2 separate regions of the Homo sapiens genome follow, and region 2 is linked to region 1. Evidence: fine-mapped expression QTL. Tissue or cell type: whole blood. Region 1 holds a variant in brackets; the other region holds the start of a gene. All regions are shown on one strand. Distances are between the middles of the regions.

Region 1 (8,176 bases):
TGTAGAGTGGGACTTATGAGGAAACGGTTTAAGAGAGACATACACAGTTGCTTGGAGGATTGCTTGAACCTAGGAGTTCTGGGCTGTAGTAAGCTAGATCATGCTTGTGAATAGCCGCTGCACTCCAGCCTGGGCAACAGAAGGAGACTATGTCTCTAAAAAAAAAAAAAAAGAGAGAGAGAGAGAGGGAGGCTGGGCACAGTGGCTCATGCCTATAATCCTAGCACTTTGGGAGGCCAAGGCAGGTGGATCACCTGAGGTCAGGAGTTCAAGACTAGCCTGGCCAACATGGTAAAATCTTGCCTGTACTAAAAATACAAAAATTTGCCAAGCATGGTGGCGGGCACCTGTAATCCCAGCTACTCGGGAGGCTGAGGCAGGAGAATCGCTTGAACCTGGGAGGCGGAGGGTGCAGTGAGCCAAGATCGTGCCTTTGCACTCCAGCCTGGGCAACAAGAGCAAAACTCCATCTCAAAAGAAAAAAAAAGGCCAGGCGCGGTGGCTCACACCTGTAATTCCAGCACTTTGGGAGGCCGAGGCAGGCAGATCACCTGAGGCCAGGAGTTCGAGACCAGCCTGACCAACATGGAGAAATCCTGTCTCTACTAAAAATACAAAATTAGCCAGGCGTGGTGGTGCATGCCTGTAATCCCAGCTACTCGGGAGGCTAAGGCAGGAGAATCACTTGAACCTGGGAGGCAGAGGTTGCAGTGAGCGGGGAGATCGTGCCATTGCACTCCAGCCTGAGCAACAAGAGTGAAACTCCGTCTCAAAAAAAAAAAAAAAAAAAAAAAAAGAGGCTAGCCGGGCACAGTGGCTCACATCTGTAATCCCAGCACTTTGGAAGGGTGCGGCAGGCAAATCACTTGAGCTCAGGCCAGCCTGGGCAACATGATGAGACCCCGTTGCTACAAAAAAATAAAAAATAAAGAGAGGGTTGGGGACAGACAGCTGATGAAAGCTATTTTTATACCTTCTCCTTAGCCTCCATCTCCTAATTCCTTTCTAGAATACAGATGTGATGGCTGGAGGTCCAGCAGCTATCATGGACCCTGAAGTGATCTGGAGGCTAGACATCACACCCTAAGAATGGCAGAGCTGAAAGGCAGAGGAAACATGAGTCTCTGGTGATACTATGAAGCTTCTAGTCCAGCCCTGAACACAATAAAAGTTTTTCTTTCTCAGGGTCTCTACAGGGAGACAAGAGGGGTATTCTTCTTATCTATGTCACCGATGGGCTGATGCTGATGGAGTAACCACCATGTTGAACATCACTCTATTAGAGCCCTGGAGGGTACTGGTAACTAAATATTTAGCCTGGATGTCAAATCACTTCTACTCATTGGCCAGAACTAGCCCCATGGCTCCGTCTAATCAATGGTAAGACAGCCAGGAAATGTCATCCTGCCAAGTACCCAGAAGGCAGGGAGCAGAAGGAGGTCCAGTGATCATCATTAAGAAATCAAGTTGGGGCTGGGCGTGGTGGCTCACGCTTGTAATCCCACCACTGTGAGAGGCCAAGGCGGGTGTATCACCTGAGGTCGGGAGTTCAAGACCAGCCTGAACAACATGGAGAAACCCCGTGTCTACTAAAAATACAAAATTAGCTGGGCATGATGGTGCATGCCTGTAATCCCAGCTACTCAGGAGGCTGAGGCAGGAGAATTGCTTGAACCCGGGAGCTAGAGGTTGCGGTGAGCTGAGATCGCACCATTGCACGCCAGCCTAGGCAACAAGAGCAAAACTCCATCTAAAAAAAAAAAAAGAAAGAAAAGAAAGAAATCAAGTTGTCCAGGAGCAGTGGCTCACGCCTATAATCCCAGCACTTTGGGAGGCCAAGGCAGGTGGATCACCTGAGGTCAGGAGTTCAAGACCAGCCTGGCTGACATGGTGAAACGGCATCTCCACTAAAAATACAAAATTACCCGGGTGTGGTGGCTCATGCCCGTGATCCCAGATACTGGGGAGGCTGACGCAGGAGAATCACTTGAACCTGGAAGATGGAGATTGCAGTGAGCCAAGATCACACCATTGCTCCCCAGCCTGGGCAACAAGAGTGAAATTCCATCTCAAAAAAAAAAAAAAAAAAAAAGAAAAAAGAAATCAAGTTGAGTTCAATATTTATTCCTCTTCATACAGAAGGAACCGATATTTAAACATATTAAAATCTCCATATTTTTCTCAAATAATATAATGAACTTAGAATATTTTAATGCCAATCTCCTCTCATCTTTGTGGTATTATCTTCTTTTTTTATTTTAAAAAACTTTTTTAAAGACAGGGTTTTGCTCTCTGTCACCCAGGCTAGAGTGCAGTGGCATGATCATAGCTCACTGCAGCCTCAAGCTCCTGGGTTCCCACCTCAGCCTCCGAGTGGCTAGGACTACAGGCAAGTACTACCATGCCTGGCTAATTAAAAAAAAAAAAAAAAATTGTAGAGACAGGTTCTCACTATGTTGCCTAGGCTGATCTCAAACTCCTGGCCTCAAGCAATCTTCCTGCCTCAGACTCCCAAAGCCCTGGGATTACAGGTGTGAGCTACTATGCCCAGCCCTGAAGTATTATTTTCTAGAAAACAAGTTAATATATGTAAAGTGCTTAAAACAATGCCTGGCATGTAGCAAGCACTATATGGGTCTTCTATTATAAGTGGTTGCATTAAAGTGAAATTGGTCTTTTTCTTTTCTTGTTTTAATTATGTAACACTTATTTACATTATTTAGCACAGGTTTGGCCATTTCTAGCTCCTCAAGTATGAACTCTCTCATTCTGTTATTCTCTTCCTCTGGAACTCTTGTTTAATGGCTGCTGCATCATTTCATTCTCTCCTCCCAACTCCATTTCTTTACCTCATTGTGATGCATTCTGGAAAATTTCTTCAGCTTTGTTTTCTAATTCACTAATTCTTTCTTTGGCTGTGTCTAAAATACCATTTCACTCATCCAATGATGTTTTTTCCTGTTCTGTAGTTGTATTTTTATAGCTATAACTTTTGTTTAATTATTTTTCAAATCTGCCTATCCTGTTTTCATTTTATTCAGTCCTTACATTATGGTTTATAGCTCTTTTTTTTTTCCTGTGAACACTTTAAACACTTTGCATTAGAGTACATTTTAGATTTTTCTATTAATTATATTCCTTGGGAGGCTATTCTTCCTATTTCCTTCTGACTGTTGCTTTTCTAATTTTTGACCCCTTGTGAGCTCAACTCAGTGGGGGATGCTTTCCATGGGAGTCTCTCATTCCTAAATTGTAGAAACAATCCTACAGAGAGGCTTTGCATTTGCCTCTCTCAAGCTGCCGAGATGTGCCAGTTATGCTAATTTCTTGGTCCCCTTTGTAATTTCAAAACCCCTGCCCAAAGCATTGAAGGCCAACATCTGGCTCCAAAACTCCATGAGCCATTTCAACTTCTCCTCCCACTAACTCTCTCATTTTATGTTCCCTTTGTATTCCCAGCACCCAGAGATTTTCTGCTCTTATTTAAAGCTGGTTGAGGGTTCAAAGCATTATTGAACTATATTTTCTTCAGTGTCTCCATGTGTAGTCATTTCTTATATACTTTCTTATTTTCTCATTTGTTTATAGCACACAGTTTAGCAAATAACTGTACACTATCTTGTCCATTACTTAAGTGTGTATATTTTCTCTCCCTGACAATATGTAGATGCTCCTCGTTATGGGCAGAATTGTCATCCCAAAATTCATAAGCTGAAGTCCTAACCCTCAATTAGTATGACTGTATTTGGACATAGGATCTTTGAAGAAGTAGAGTTAAATGAGGTCATGGGAGCGGGCTCTATCCAATATGACTGGAGTCCTTATAAGAAGACAAGATCAGGACTAGGCATGGTGGCTCATGCCTATAGTCCCAGCACTTTGGGAGGCCAAGGTGCACGGATCACCTGAGGTCAGGAGTTTGAGACCAGCCTGGTCAACATGGCACAACCCCATCTCTACTAAAAATACAAAAATTAGCTGGGTGTGGTGGCGTGCACTTGTAGTCCCAGCTACTCAAGAGGCTGAGGCAGAAGAATTGCTTGAGACTGGGAGGCAGAGGTTGCAGTGAGCAGAGATCGCATCATTGCACTCCAGCCTGGGTGACAAGAGCAAGACTCCATCTCAAAAAAAAAAAAAAAACAAAACCAAGATCAGGACACAGACACTCATAGAGGGAAGTCCACGTGAAGAAGCAGAGAAGGTGGCCATCTACAAGCCAGAGAGAGGCTTCCAAAGAAGCCAGTCCGGCTGACACCTTGATCTTGGACTTCAAGCCTCCAGAACCGTGAAAAAATTCATTGCTATGTTTTGAGCCCCCCAGTCTGTGGCAGTTTGTTGCAGCAGCCTCACCAGACTCACACATTTCCTTCCTTCGTCTGTGTACTCAGCCAGCACATACTCAGCCCTCATACTGAGCCAACACACCCATGCCCAGCACCAACTGCACACAGGGCTCACTGGAGACACACTGACATCTCGATTCCTTTTCCCACCCACTGCCCGCGTGGGGCTGTGGGCCAGGCTGGTCCCTGTCCACTATTTGTAAGCCTTCCCAGCCCTTTCTCCCGCTCCTCTGCCTCCATCCCCTAAATAAAGCAGTCTTCATGCGAGGCCTGGCCCTCTGCCCTCCCTCTGCAGGCTCCCTTCTCACTCCGCAGGGTGGTCCTTACCAAGGCTGCCCCTGCCCTCCCTCCAGGCCCAGCATCCAGGCTCAGCTCTTCCCCTGGCCCTGCTTCTTCCCACCACTGTCCTTTCCATGGTCCTCTGGACACGCCCACAGGCGAGGCCGCAGCTTTCACTTTCCCCATGAAGAGGACAGCTTCTTCACGTCTCCAGTTTGGACCTCCTGG[A/C]CTCTCTGGCTCGGCTTTGACGTCTTCCTCTCCTCACCATCCACAGACAGTAAGTCCTGTTGATTCAGCCTCCCAGCTGTCTCCGCCTCTGCCCTCCCACGCCACCCCAGGCCACCCACTCTGCAGGGCCTCTTCCTCCCTGAAGGTCCTTCTGGCTTTTGTTTTCTTAAAGCTGAAGGTCTCAGGAGAACTTGGAGGGTTTACTGAGCAAGTAGAAGGAAAGAAGGGCAGAGTGTCTGACTGGAAGCAGGGGACAAGGTCCTCTGGTCCTCTCCCCCCAGTTAGAGGACAGGAGGGAAAGATGGGCAGGGGGGAGGTAAGGAGCAGCGAGAGTAGGAGGGCAGGGGGCCTGTTTCCTGGGTCCTGCTCCTGGACATGAGGCGAGACGAAGAGAGGGATGCTGTTGCCCTGAGACATCCAGGAAGAGGACCCAGGGCCACGTCAAAGAAGTCCTGAGGCCCAAGGGCAGCCCCAAGCTGTGGGGAGCAGCTGACCTTCAAGAATCTGGCAGAAAGACAAAGAGAGGCTGGGCACAGTGGCTCATGCCTCCAATCCCAACACTCTGGGAGGATGAGGTAGGCCGCTCACTTGAGGTCAGGAGTTCAAGACTAGCCTGGGCAACACAGCAAAACCTACAGAAAGTACAAAAATTAGCTGAGCATGGTGTTGTGCACCTGTAGTCCCAGCTACTTGGGAGGGTAAGGTGGGAGAATTGCTTGAGTCTGGGAGGTCAAGGCTTCTGTGAGCAGAGATCTGCCACTGTACTCCAGCCTGCCAGCCTGGGTAACAGAGTGAGATACTGTCTCAAAATAAATAAATAAATAAATAAAAGGCTGGGTGTCGTGGCTCACGCCTATAATCCCAATACTTTGGGAGGCCGAGGCAGGTGGATCATGAGGTCAGGAGTTTGAGACCAGCCTGGCCAACATGGTGAAACCCTGTCTCTACTGAAAATACAAAAATTAGCCAGGTATGGTGGTGGGCGCCTGTAATCCCAGCTACTCGGGAGGCTGAGACAGGAGAATTGCTTGAACCCGGGAGGCAGAGGTTGCAGTGAGCTGAGATTGCACCACTGCACTCTAGACTGGGCAACAAAGAGCAAAACTCTGTCTCAAAAAATAATAATAATACAAAAATTAGCCAGGCGTGGTGACACACGCCTGTAATCCCAGCTACTCAGGAGGCTGAGGCAGGAGAATCACTTGAACCCTGGAGGCAGAGGTTGCAGTGAGCCAAGATCATGCCATTGCGCTCCAGCCCGGGCACCAAGAGTGAAACTCTGTCTCAAAAACAAAAAACAAAAAACAAAAAACAAAAAAAAAAACAGCCAAAGAGAATCTTGCAGCCATGGTGTGGGTTACTGACTGGGGACCTGCTGCCCACCCACCCTGGCCTCAGCACGGGAATGACCTGGAAGGAGAGAGCCCTCAAGGGCTGAGATTAAACCCACCAAGAGTGGAAATTGGGGGCCAAAAGTAAGCCCTCTAAAGCTCAGCAATGAACTTAATTTGGAAATTTCTAACATTCATAGGCTTGGTATTTATTCCACTTGTTTCCTAGATGGAAAATATAAATACCCAGCTTAGCTGGAGGTAGAGATGAGAGACACACCAGGGGCACTGCTTGGTCAGGCCAGGGGGTCATGGAAGGTCAAGGGTCCAGAGGTCTGGCTCAAAAGTGATGTTGTTTTTTGTTTTTGTTTTTGTTTTTTTGAGACCGAGTCTCGCTCTGTCTTCCAGGCTGGAGTGCAGCGGTGCGATCTCGGGTCACTGCAATCTCTGCCTCCTGGGTTCAAGCAATTCTCCTCCCTCAGCCTCCCGAGTAGCTGGGATTACAGGCACGTGCCACCATGCCCAGCTAATTTTTCATATTTTAGTAGAGACAGGGTTTCACCATTTTGGCCAGGCTGGTCTCAAACTCCTGACCTCAAGTGATCCGCCCACCTCGGCCTCCCAAAGTGCTGGGATTACAGGTGTGCGCCACTGCAACCGGCTGAAAGTGATGTTTTAAATGAATGCCCATGAGAGAACCAAATGAAATGGGTACAGTTACCAAATGAAGTGACTCGATCTGAAACAGCTGATATCTAGACCGGATGAATTCGACCATCAGCCCAGGCTCTGGTGTCCTGGTTTTGCTCCTCCTCGGCAAGCCCCTGAAGGGCCCGGCTCCAAACCCAGTTGCTGGGTGGATTCCCCAGGCCCTGGGCCTGTGTCTTAACGGGTCTTAGACCACCCAGCAGGCCAGGTCCTTCATGGTCTCCCGGGAACACAGACCCAAGAGGGCCCAGCCAACTTCAAAGTCCAGAGCAAGTGTCCCAGGGCAGAGGGGCCACCAGGCTTCAGGCAGGGAGGAGAGTGGGCACCTCTCCTGCTGTTTCCAAGACACTCCATTGAGGCACACACAGTCTGTTCAGAAAAACCCCTCAGGAGGACAGTCCCGAGGGTTTCCCACCTGACCGTGGGTGCTCCTTCCTCTCCTGGCCTGGGACCCCTTTCCTAACTCTCTCACCCTAGGCTTTCCCCGTTCTAGTCCAGAAGCGCCCATGACTTGAGACCTTCCCCTCGGAATCACATTCCACCTCCGCCCGACGCCGGATTCTCCAATACACAGACCCCAACTGCGGACCAGGAACCCCCACTCACTGTGAGGGAGGGGCTCTGGCCCTCACACAAGCACCCTGAGGCCATGCTGCAGACAGGCGCTGGGGCAGTTGGAGTAGTCCCTGAAGCTGGGAGGGGCAGGGCAGCATCTCCAGTGGCTCTCATCTGCGTCCAGCAGGCAGATGGGGCTGTCACTGAAGTCAGGGAAAGGGGGAAACGGAAGGGGCTCAGGGTGCCTTCCTGGGCAGGAAGGAAAGCCGGCTGTCAAGGAGAGCCCAGTGGTCAATCGTTGGTGTCTCCCAGAGTCTCCTCACTGCTGATTGCAACTCAGACAGCTGGGCCCAGCCCGAGTTCCCAAGTCAGCCAGGCAGCGGCAGGCCCAAGAACACGCATGCCTAGGAAGTCTCCAGCGACACTCTACTGCTAGGTTAGGACCATGCCTTGAGAACTGCTGAGGCTCAAGTTTTGCTCTCTGCATCTGGAGTCAGCGTCCTGGGTTCCTGTCCCAAGTCTGCCCCCTGATGGTAAGAAGTTGCTTCTTCAGCCAAATTTCATAATTTACCTCCTGGGGTAGGTGTAAAGATTAAGTGATATACTTGGGAAAATTAGCACAATTCCTGGCACACAGTAAGACTGAAAAAAATTCCTTATCAACTGGTTGAGGTGTGGTAATTTGGGTGGAGGAAGCTGCTGGGTTTTTTGTTTGTTTTTGTTTTTTTAATA
Region 2 (8,176 bases), 24 kb before region 1:
GCTGTGGCTGTTGAGCTTCTGGGGTGATACAAGCTGTGGGGCTAGGGCCACTCTGGATGCCCACTTGGGGGCCATGCTTGCTGATGCATAAGTACAGAAAAGAAGAATGGGGCACGTGCTCAGAGAGCGGCAGACCGGAGGTCATGGGGCCAGGGAGAGTGAGACACACACACGCATGCACACACACACACATGCATGCACACACACAGACACACACATGCACACACACACACACTGCCTGCCTTGGCCCCGGCCTTTTCAGCTCCAGCCCCCAGCTCCCCAAGGCCCATCTGAATGTCTTGCCCTGCACTAACCTGCCCCCCATCTTACTTGCCAGGCCCTTGCCCACCCCCTCCCTAACAAAAGGTAGGAGAGTTTGGCAAACCTTCACTTTCTCCCCAAATCCCTCCTGCCTTGTTCTTACCCAACTATGCCCTTCCCTGGGTCTCTGCCACAGGGTCAGCTGTGATTTTTGTTCCTTGTTTCTTGGGTTTGCTGCTGCAACTCACTAGCTTTCCTGGGCAGTGTCTTCCCCATCATACCCTAGCATGGTTTTCCTCATAATCCCAGATTTCAAAAAGGACGTTGCTCACAACCTCCCTGGCCCCTGGCCTGGTGCACAGAGGGCCAGCGGAAAGTGGACAAGGGAGGGAGGGAGGGAAGAGAGAAGGCCAGCAAGCAGGAAGCCCACCTTCCAGGGGTGAGCCACCCCAGCTAAGCACCTACTGCAGACTCTGCCCACCCATGTTTTCAGGGAGGGGACGGGGTAGTAGGCAGGAGGCAGGGCGGCAGTGGGCAGCTGGTCCTGAGCACAGGCTTCACCGTGCAGAGCTGGGAGGCATGCACATAGCTCTGGGGTCAGCCTCGTTTCAGGAGCTGCACAAGAGACTGAGCTCTGGGACGGTGTCTGAGGGGTGAGAGGAGCGAGTCACTCTGGAGATGGGGCGGCCCCCAGTTAGCTGGCTCTGTCCAAAGTCTCAGTGGCCCTCTGCTGACCTGGCTCACCCCACTGGCCTGATTCAGGCTCTGCTGAGGTGGGGCTGAGCTGGGATGCAGGTAGGTGGATGGGGCGGATCTTTGATCGGCTTAGTATCAGTTTGTCTTGCTTCCCCAGGGCCACAGCTTTTGAAAAAGAGCCAGGTCCAGGCCACAGAGATCCAGAGCCTCATCCCAGTACCTTAGCCTGCCCTAATCCGCAGGCCTCTGGCCTGATCCCCTGTGCCTTGAGCCCGGCCTTCACAGACACGCCTCGGGATGGGGCTGTTTAGACAAATGGTCTCTCCTGCGGTTCCCAGGGAACCGCAGACATGGCATGGGGGAAATTCAGCACCTGGCCTCTCCAACACCCTCCTCCCCTTCTCTGGGGGACTTTGCTCCCCCCAGATCTCACTGTGTAGTTCCACTGGGGGCTGTGCACCTCGGCATCCTGCCACTCTGGCTCAGGAGGTGGGGCATGACCTAGGCCACGCCCATCAGAATCCTTCTTGGGATTTTTCACTCATCTCTAAGGAAAGACAGCAGTTCCTCAGGAAAGAAGATGGCGTGCCGGTGGCCATGCCTCACAGGCTGCTGCCGAGAAGAACAAGGCCAAGACACGTTAATAACCAAAGAGAGCCGGGTGCAATGGCTTATGCCTGTAATCCCAGCACTTTGGGAGGCTGAGGTGGGAGGATCACTTGAGACCAGGAGTTCAAGATCCGCTCTGGCAACATAGTGAGACCCCGTCTCTACAAAAATGAAAAAATTAGCTGGGCATGGTGGCACCTGCCTGTAGCCCCAGCTACTTAGGAGGCTGAGTGAGGTAGGAGGATCGCTTGAGCCTGGGAGGTTGAGGCTGCAGTGAGCCGTGGTCACACCACAGCCTGAGTGACAGAGCAAGACCCTGTCTCAAAAAAAAAAAAAAAAAAAAAAAGAAGAGGAGAGACCTGAGACCTGGAGGGTCCAGATCCCATTTTCTGTCATCCTGGAGCCCAACCACATGCCCTGCCCTTTCTGTGTTTTGGTTCCAGAGCCAGGGCCCCAAGTTTAGCAGGGTCCTGGGCTTGGTTTAATGCTCTGTTGTTGCTGTCTTGACATTCTTATTCATTTTTGAAAAAGGGACCCTGAATTTTCATGTTGCACTGGACTCCACAAATTACACAATCTTACCGTTAGCCATTAACAGGTATTTTTGGTGTAAGATTCTAGTAGGGTAATCTAAAAGAGTACACAGGAGTGCAACTCAGACACACACACACACACACACACACACGAGACTAGAGGAGTTCCTCGTCCCCCATAAACCCAGATACTCAGCCCCTTCTCCCAGGCCCCAGGAGCCCCAAACTCATACCCAGTGCCTGGCTCAGCCCCTCTTCCCAGCCGTGACACTTACACAGCATCTTGGTCACTTGTCTCCGGCCCCGATCGTGCTGCTGGAGCCTGCAGGTGTATCTGGACCTGGCTGCTGCAGAGCCCCTGCCCTTGGCCTCCTGCATGAGCAGCAGCCTCTCCCGCCGCAGTCGCAGCCCAATGAGCAGGTAGAGCACGCTCATGATGGCCATGGGCAGGCAGAAGAAGAGCAGCGCGGTGGTCTGCACTACCATGTTGTAGAGGGCCCGTGGGCGGACCAGCATGCAAACAGCTGAGTCTGGCACTGGGCCCCGGCAGGGCACGTGCAGCTGCCGGATGCCGTGCAGGCTGGTGTTGGGCAGGGAGCAGAGCATGGCAAGACCCCAGACGGCCCCAAGCACTCGGCGCACATGGGCCCGCGTCACCATGGACCTGGCCTGGAGTGGGTGCACCACGGCCACATAGCGTTCCACGCTCAGGGCAGTGACGTTGAGCACTGAGGCCAGGCAGACCATCTCAAACAGTAGCGTGCGGAAATAGCAGCCACCAACGCCCAGCAGGAAGGGGTAGTTGTGCCACATCTCATAGAGCTCCAGGGGCAGGCCCACCAGCAGCACCAGCAGGTCCGACACGGCCAGGCTGAAGAGGTAGTAGTTGGTAGGCGTGCGCATGGCCTTGTGGCGCAGGATGACCAGACAGGTCAGCCCATTGCCCACAGCGCCCACCACGAAGATCAGCAGGTATGTGGCACAGATGGGCATGAACAGCTCTGTCTGCTGGGGCCCCAGGTACTTGAGTCTCAGTGCCTCGTCAGTCAGGTTCAAGTCCTCAGGGTCAAAGTGCCCCCTGGCCGCACTGCCATTGCAAGCCATGGGGTTCCTTGCACCCCCTGGGTACAGGTCTCCAGGGAGGACAGAGCAATTGAGGCAGAGAGGAGTCTGTGGAACAGAGGGGAGAGATGCCCAGAAAGATCATTCAGGGAATGCTGGCTCTGTCCTCACTCATCAAGCCAAAGGTGACATTAGCGCTATGATGACCATTATTTTAGGCACCACTGAGAAAGAAAAAACTCTTCCATCCACAAGTCAGAGATGTAAAAATAAGCTTGGTGCAGTGGCTCACACCTGTAATCCCAACACTTTGGTCGAGGCAGGCGGATCACTTGAGATCAGGAGTTCAAGACCAGCCTGGCCAATATGGTGAAACCCCGTCTCTACTAACAATACAAAAAGTAGCCGGGCGTGGTAGCACACGCCTGTAATTCCAGCTACTTGGGAGGCTGAGGCGGGAGAATTGTTTGAACCCAGGAGACAGAGGTTGCAGTGAGCGGAGATTGTGCCACCGGACTCCAGCCTGGGCAACAGAGAAAGACCTTGTCTCAAAAAAACAAAAAGCAAACAACGAAAAAGTAAAAATCTACATTTAAAAAAAAAAAAACACGTGGGGTTTTGATTTTAAATTTCATGATCTATTGGAACCTTTGAGTAAATGACAGATCTTGGGTGTCTCCTCTTTCAAGCAATGATGCTAGATGAGGCACTCGTTTGGGCATCTGTAAAATGGGCACAATGCCTGGTATTGCAGGGTCTTCAAGAGCAAGCGCTCAGGAAGCAACTGCCTGGATTCGAATCCAGCCTCCCCAGTTCCAGGCTGTGTGACCTTTAGCGAGGTAACCTCTCTGAGGCTGTTTCCCTATTAGGAGGATCCAGGGAGTTTAATCCATTAAAGACATTAACACAGGGCCTGCCTGGCATACGGAAGGGCACGGGGATCACCCCCTTGCTCTGGGGACCCAGTCACTATGAGAGTCAAGTGAGGGAGTGTCAAGGCTACACACTACAAATGCTTCATCCACAAGTTGATTCTTTTTTCTGTTTTCTGTCACCTGAACTGTTCAGTCTCCATATTTGACGCCCTTGGCACTGCCAGTTCTGGGGTTCCCTCTCCTCTATTGAGCCCCACACCCTTCCTCCCGCCCGCCCTCACCCCCGCTGCACAGCAGCGCGGGAGCCTCGGGAACCAGTTGGGAACGCGCAGGCGCCAGCCCGGGTTCAAGGGAGGCGCCCTGGTCCTCGAGGAAGGGTCGCAAGCCCGCAGCCCCCCGGCGCCCCTGGCCGGAAGACACAAATGACCCGAGAAGTTGCGAGGCTCCCCGGTGGCGGGGACGGGGGGCACCCCGACGGAGCCCTCGGACCCTTCCCGCCCTAGGACGACCCTGCCCGCACCGAGCCCCGGCCCAGCTGCCGCGCCCTAGCCCACGCCGGCGCCTGCGCACCTACCATGCGGCCCGCGGCCCGCGAGACCCCGGCTTCCACCCTCCGAGCGACGGACACAGACGCGGCGCGGGAGCCAGTGGACTGACTGACAGCGGCCCCAGCCCGCGCCCCGACGCCCCGCCTGTCCGGCCGGGAACGCCGCCAGGGGGCAGTGCAGTCCCCGCAGCCCGGGCGGCGCCCCCTCCCGCACTGGCGGAGGACGCGGCCGTTGGAGGCGACACCTCCACAAGCAGCGTGGAGGCGACACCTCCACAAGCAGCGTTATCTGACGGAACCCTCACAACAACCCGTTTTACAGATGAGAAAACTGAGCCTCAGAGAGCCGCAGAGGAGGAGCCCGAGAGACCTGGGGCTCACATGTGATTCCCGCCCTCCAGCGTGCTGAGTTTAGCTTAACGCCGTCACGGTGTCCCTGCGGCCTCCAGCTCCTCCTGCCCCCCATTCAGACCCACCTCCAAGGACAGGGACGGCCCACCAGCCCCTTGAAGTCGACATGCCCCGGTGCGGTTCATCCTCCCAGGCTCCAGGCCTCTTCTTCTGTCCCAAGGCCCATGATTGCAGCCTCCGCAGCCCCTCTCACCCGCTGCTCCCTTCGGGGCCTCCAGTCCCTGAGTCCAGGCGCTCGGCCCTGCAGGACTGGGCAAGAGCCCCCTATTCTCCCTCCAGTCCATCCTCCCACAGCCACCAACGACCATCACCCCCTCGAAACCCTTCCTTGGGGCCCCCCCACTGCCTTCTGAAAAAGAGCACACCAAAGTCTAGCCTGGGGGTGGACCTCCCCACTCCTCACCTGCCTCCCTGGGCCACCCTCTCCTCACCATTGTCCTCAGCCCCAAATACTGTCCCCCTTATCCGTTCAAATGTTCTTCTGCCCCCATCACTGTACCAAGGGTGGGGGTATAGACAAGGATGGAGGGAATTTAGGGAAGGGTTAAGAATGCCCAGCCACAGCCTCCTGCTCCCCCACACTGCCCACATGCAAATCCCAGTGCCTCACCTGCTCCCACTCCCTAGTCCTGCAATCAGCTCCTTAGCTGGAAGCTGTTTCATCAGAAACTTCTAGGGACCCTAGAAATGACGGATCACACAGAGTAAAATGCTGGTTCCGGGGCCTTTGCCCAGAGTTTTGTCTCCTTAGCCTGGGCAAGGCCCAGAAATCCTCATGTTTGACAAACGCCCTCTGGAGAGCCCCATGCCCCAGAATCACACTGAGGAGCACCAGGAGAGGTTACAAAGCCACAGGACCCCGAGAGGCCACCGTGAGCTCAGAAGCTCTGTGTGCCTCAGTTCCCCTTCCTGTAGAATGGGCTAACCACCATCGCCACTATTGTGAAGGTGACATGAGACACTGAGCGTCAAGATTCAGCACAGGGGCTGGCACATGGCCAACACTCAAGAAATGTGGGGTGGGATTGTCACCATTTAGTGGCAACTGGAGGCTCCTCCTTCCCCCCGCTTTCCTGCACCCTCCTCCTCCCCACTGCCCCCCAATTCCATAAGTCACTGTCTGGGCTTGGGGATGGGAGTTAGGCCCTCAAGGAGCCTGCACCAGGCCGGCCTTCCCAGGAACTCCACATGTAAACAGAGTCCCAGGCAGGGGACGGTTGTGGGAAGTGCAGGGGCACGTGGTCCTCAGGGCCTTGGGAGAAAGGATTCTGTGGTGCCCTGGGAATTAACTACTCAGCCCCTGATGAGCTAGTCCAGGAGAAATCCTCAGTAACAGGGCTGCCAGCACAACAGACGGGCAAGGAGGGATGACATCACTCAGCATCAGAGACCACTGTGGCATCACAGGCTGCTCTTAGCAAGTGAGGAGCATTTGGACCCCAGCCCTTCACTGGAACACACACACACACGCACATGCATGTACACACACATACACACACATGCATGCACACATCACTCTGCACATACCACACCACACACACGCGCACACACATACCACTCTGCACAGACTCTGAGCAGTCCGAAAGTCCCCGTGGACCCTTTGGTTCACACAGCCCTGGAGGGGATGGGGAAGGACCCACCTAGCCTTGCAGAGGCAGAATGACTCTTGCCAGTCAGGAATTCCTACAGCGGGTTGCATCATTCACATAACATTAGCAGCCATCAAAGGCTAAAGAGCAGCCCCCAAAAAGGAGAGGCTCAGTGGCCACAATGGCTGTGGCCCTCACTTCCGCACTGTGCAGAGGGCCCTAGGGGCCCTGGCCTCCGGGCCTGAGCTCAAGGCCACCACGGTAGTGTCCCATCAGAAACGTATGACATCCTGCTGCTCCTGCTCCGTCCTGAGGTGGCACCCCCCAGTTTTCTGGGTGTACACATCCATCTAAGCTTGGCTGGTGGGCGTCTGCCCAGATGAGGGGGCCAAGGACCCAACTCTGCACAACAGCAAATGCATTCAGGGAGGGCCACTGGGACCTCCAGGAGCTGCTGAGATACCACCCAAGTCCCAGGCGTGTGCAGGACTCATGGGGCCAGAGGCATGTGAGTAGCTCCGTATCCCCTCCTCATCCTGCTGAGTCCCTGAGAGCCAAGAGGGGCTGCTTAAACTCAGGCCAGGCTTAAACCAGAACCTTCTCAGCCTTGGGCTGACCCGCAGCTCCTGGCAAGCCCATGGTTCCCCCAGAAACGCCCCAACCCCACCCCACTTACTGCCTACAGAGGGGAGGCAGGGAGGATGAGATGAGCTTGGGGACACTGTAGCTCTGGACAGGAGGGAGGCACTGTTCTGCAGCCTGGGCAATGGGGATCACCCAGGACCCCCATCACTAGGCTTCATTGGGCAAACATGGAGAACAAGAACAGTAAATATCCGAAGCAAGGGAGAGTCGCTGTACCCATCTGGGCACCTCCCAAGGTCAGAGAGCTCCCTACCCAGCTCTGCTCTGTGGGGTCCCAGCCTGGCCATGGCCAGGAGCTAGAGGAGGATGGTCTGGGCCCCTCAGGTGATGGGGTTCCGAACTTGGGGGCTGGGATTGCACCTCAGGGAGCCACGTGGCTTTTGTGTGATCATGCACCCATGCTCCCTGAGCCACCAGCCCTGGTCTGCTCACAGAAACTGGTGGGAGAGATGGTCAAGCCAGGCAGGGAACATGGTGAGTACAGGCTTTGGAGGCTGTGAGGCCAGAGTGAGACTCCGCATTCTGCCAGCGTGGCCTCAGATAAGCCACTTTGCGCTTCAGGCCTCAGCTTCTTTGCCTGTAAAACACAAACATAGCCCCTGTCCTTCAGGGATGCCATGAGGATTAAGAGTGATAATGTGGGTTTAAGCACTCAGTGCAGGGTTGAAGAGCCTGGAATTCTCTGGAAGATACCAGAAAGCTGCTGGGAGGCAGGGCTGGGGTGGGAGCTGTCCTTAGTAGGGTTTGGAAGGGCAAGGTCCCCAGCACCCCGGGAAGGAGAGCTGAGTCCCAGTGGAAAGGAGCACACAGGCTTGCAGGGAGCCCAGCCACAGTGCAGGCAGTCGGGGCCCTGCAGCCCGGTGGGGACCAGCAGCGGAGGAGACCTCCGGGGAGCATCGCCCCTGCCTCTCCTGCTCCTAGAGGGGACCACTGGGGACTGTCTAGCCC

Evidence for each region. PIP is the estimated chance that this variant, and not a neighbour inherited with it, causes the effect.
Region 2: NMUR1 starts here. The variant in region 1 is fine-mapped to the expression of NMUR1 in whole blood (TOPMed, PIP above 0.99). The same link has a PIP of 0.9 or more in adrenal gland.

Annotation. Positions count from the first base shown.
Region 1 is chr2:231,550,105-231,558,280 of GRCh38, forward strand. It overlaps LOC105376787 (a long non-coding RNA gene), which reads left to right. Exons shown (of 4, transcript XR_001739928.2): 4 at 1,010-1,521. Among named protein-coding and RNA genes, the nearest start is that of NMUR1, 24 kb to the left of the region's middle. RefSeq lists an enhancer at 5,496-5,555. The variant A/C (reference allele first, on the strand shown) is at 4,851.
Region 2 is chr2:231,525,749-231,533,924 of GRCh38, forward strand. It overlaps NMUR1 (neuromedin U receptor 1), which reads right to left and starts at 4,697. Exons shown (of 3, transcript NM_006056.5): 1 at 4,611-4,697; 2 at 2,375-3,269. The coding sequence starts at 4,613. It overlaps LOC105376787 (a long non-coding RNA gene), which reads left to right and starts at 6,422. Exons shown (of 4, transcript XR_001739928.2): 1 at 6,422-7,091. RefSeq lists enhancers at 498-999, 2,105-2,632, 2,633-3,159, 5,649-6,383 and a silencer at 4,525-4,954.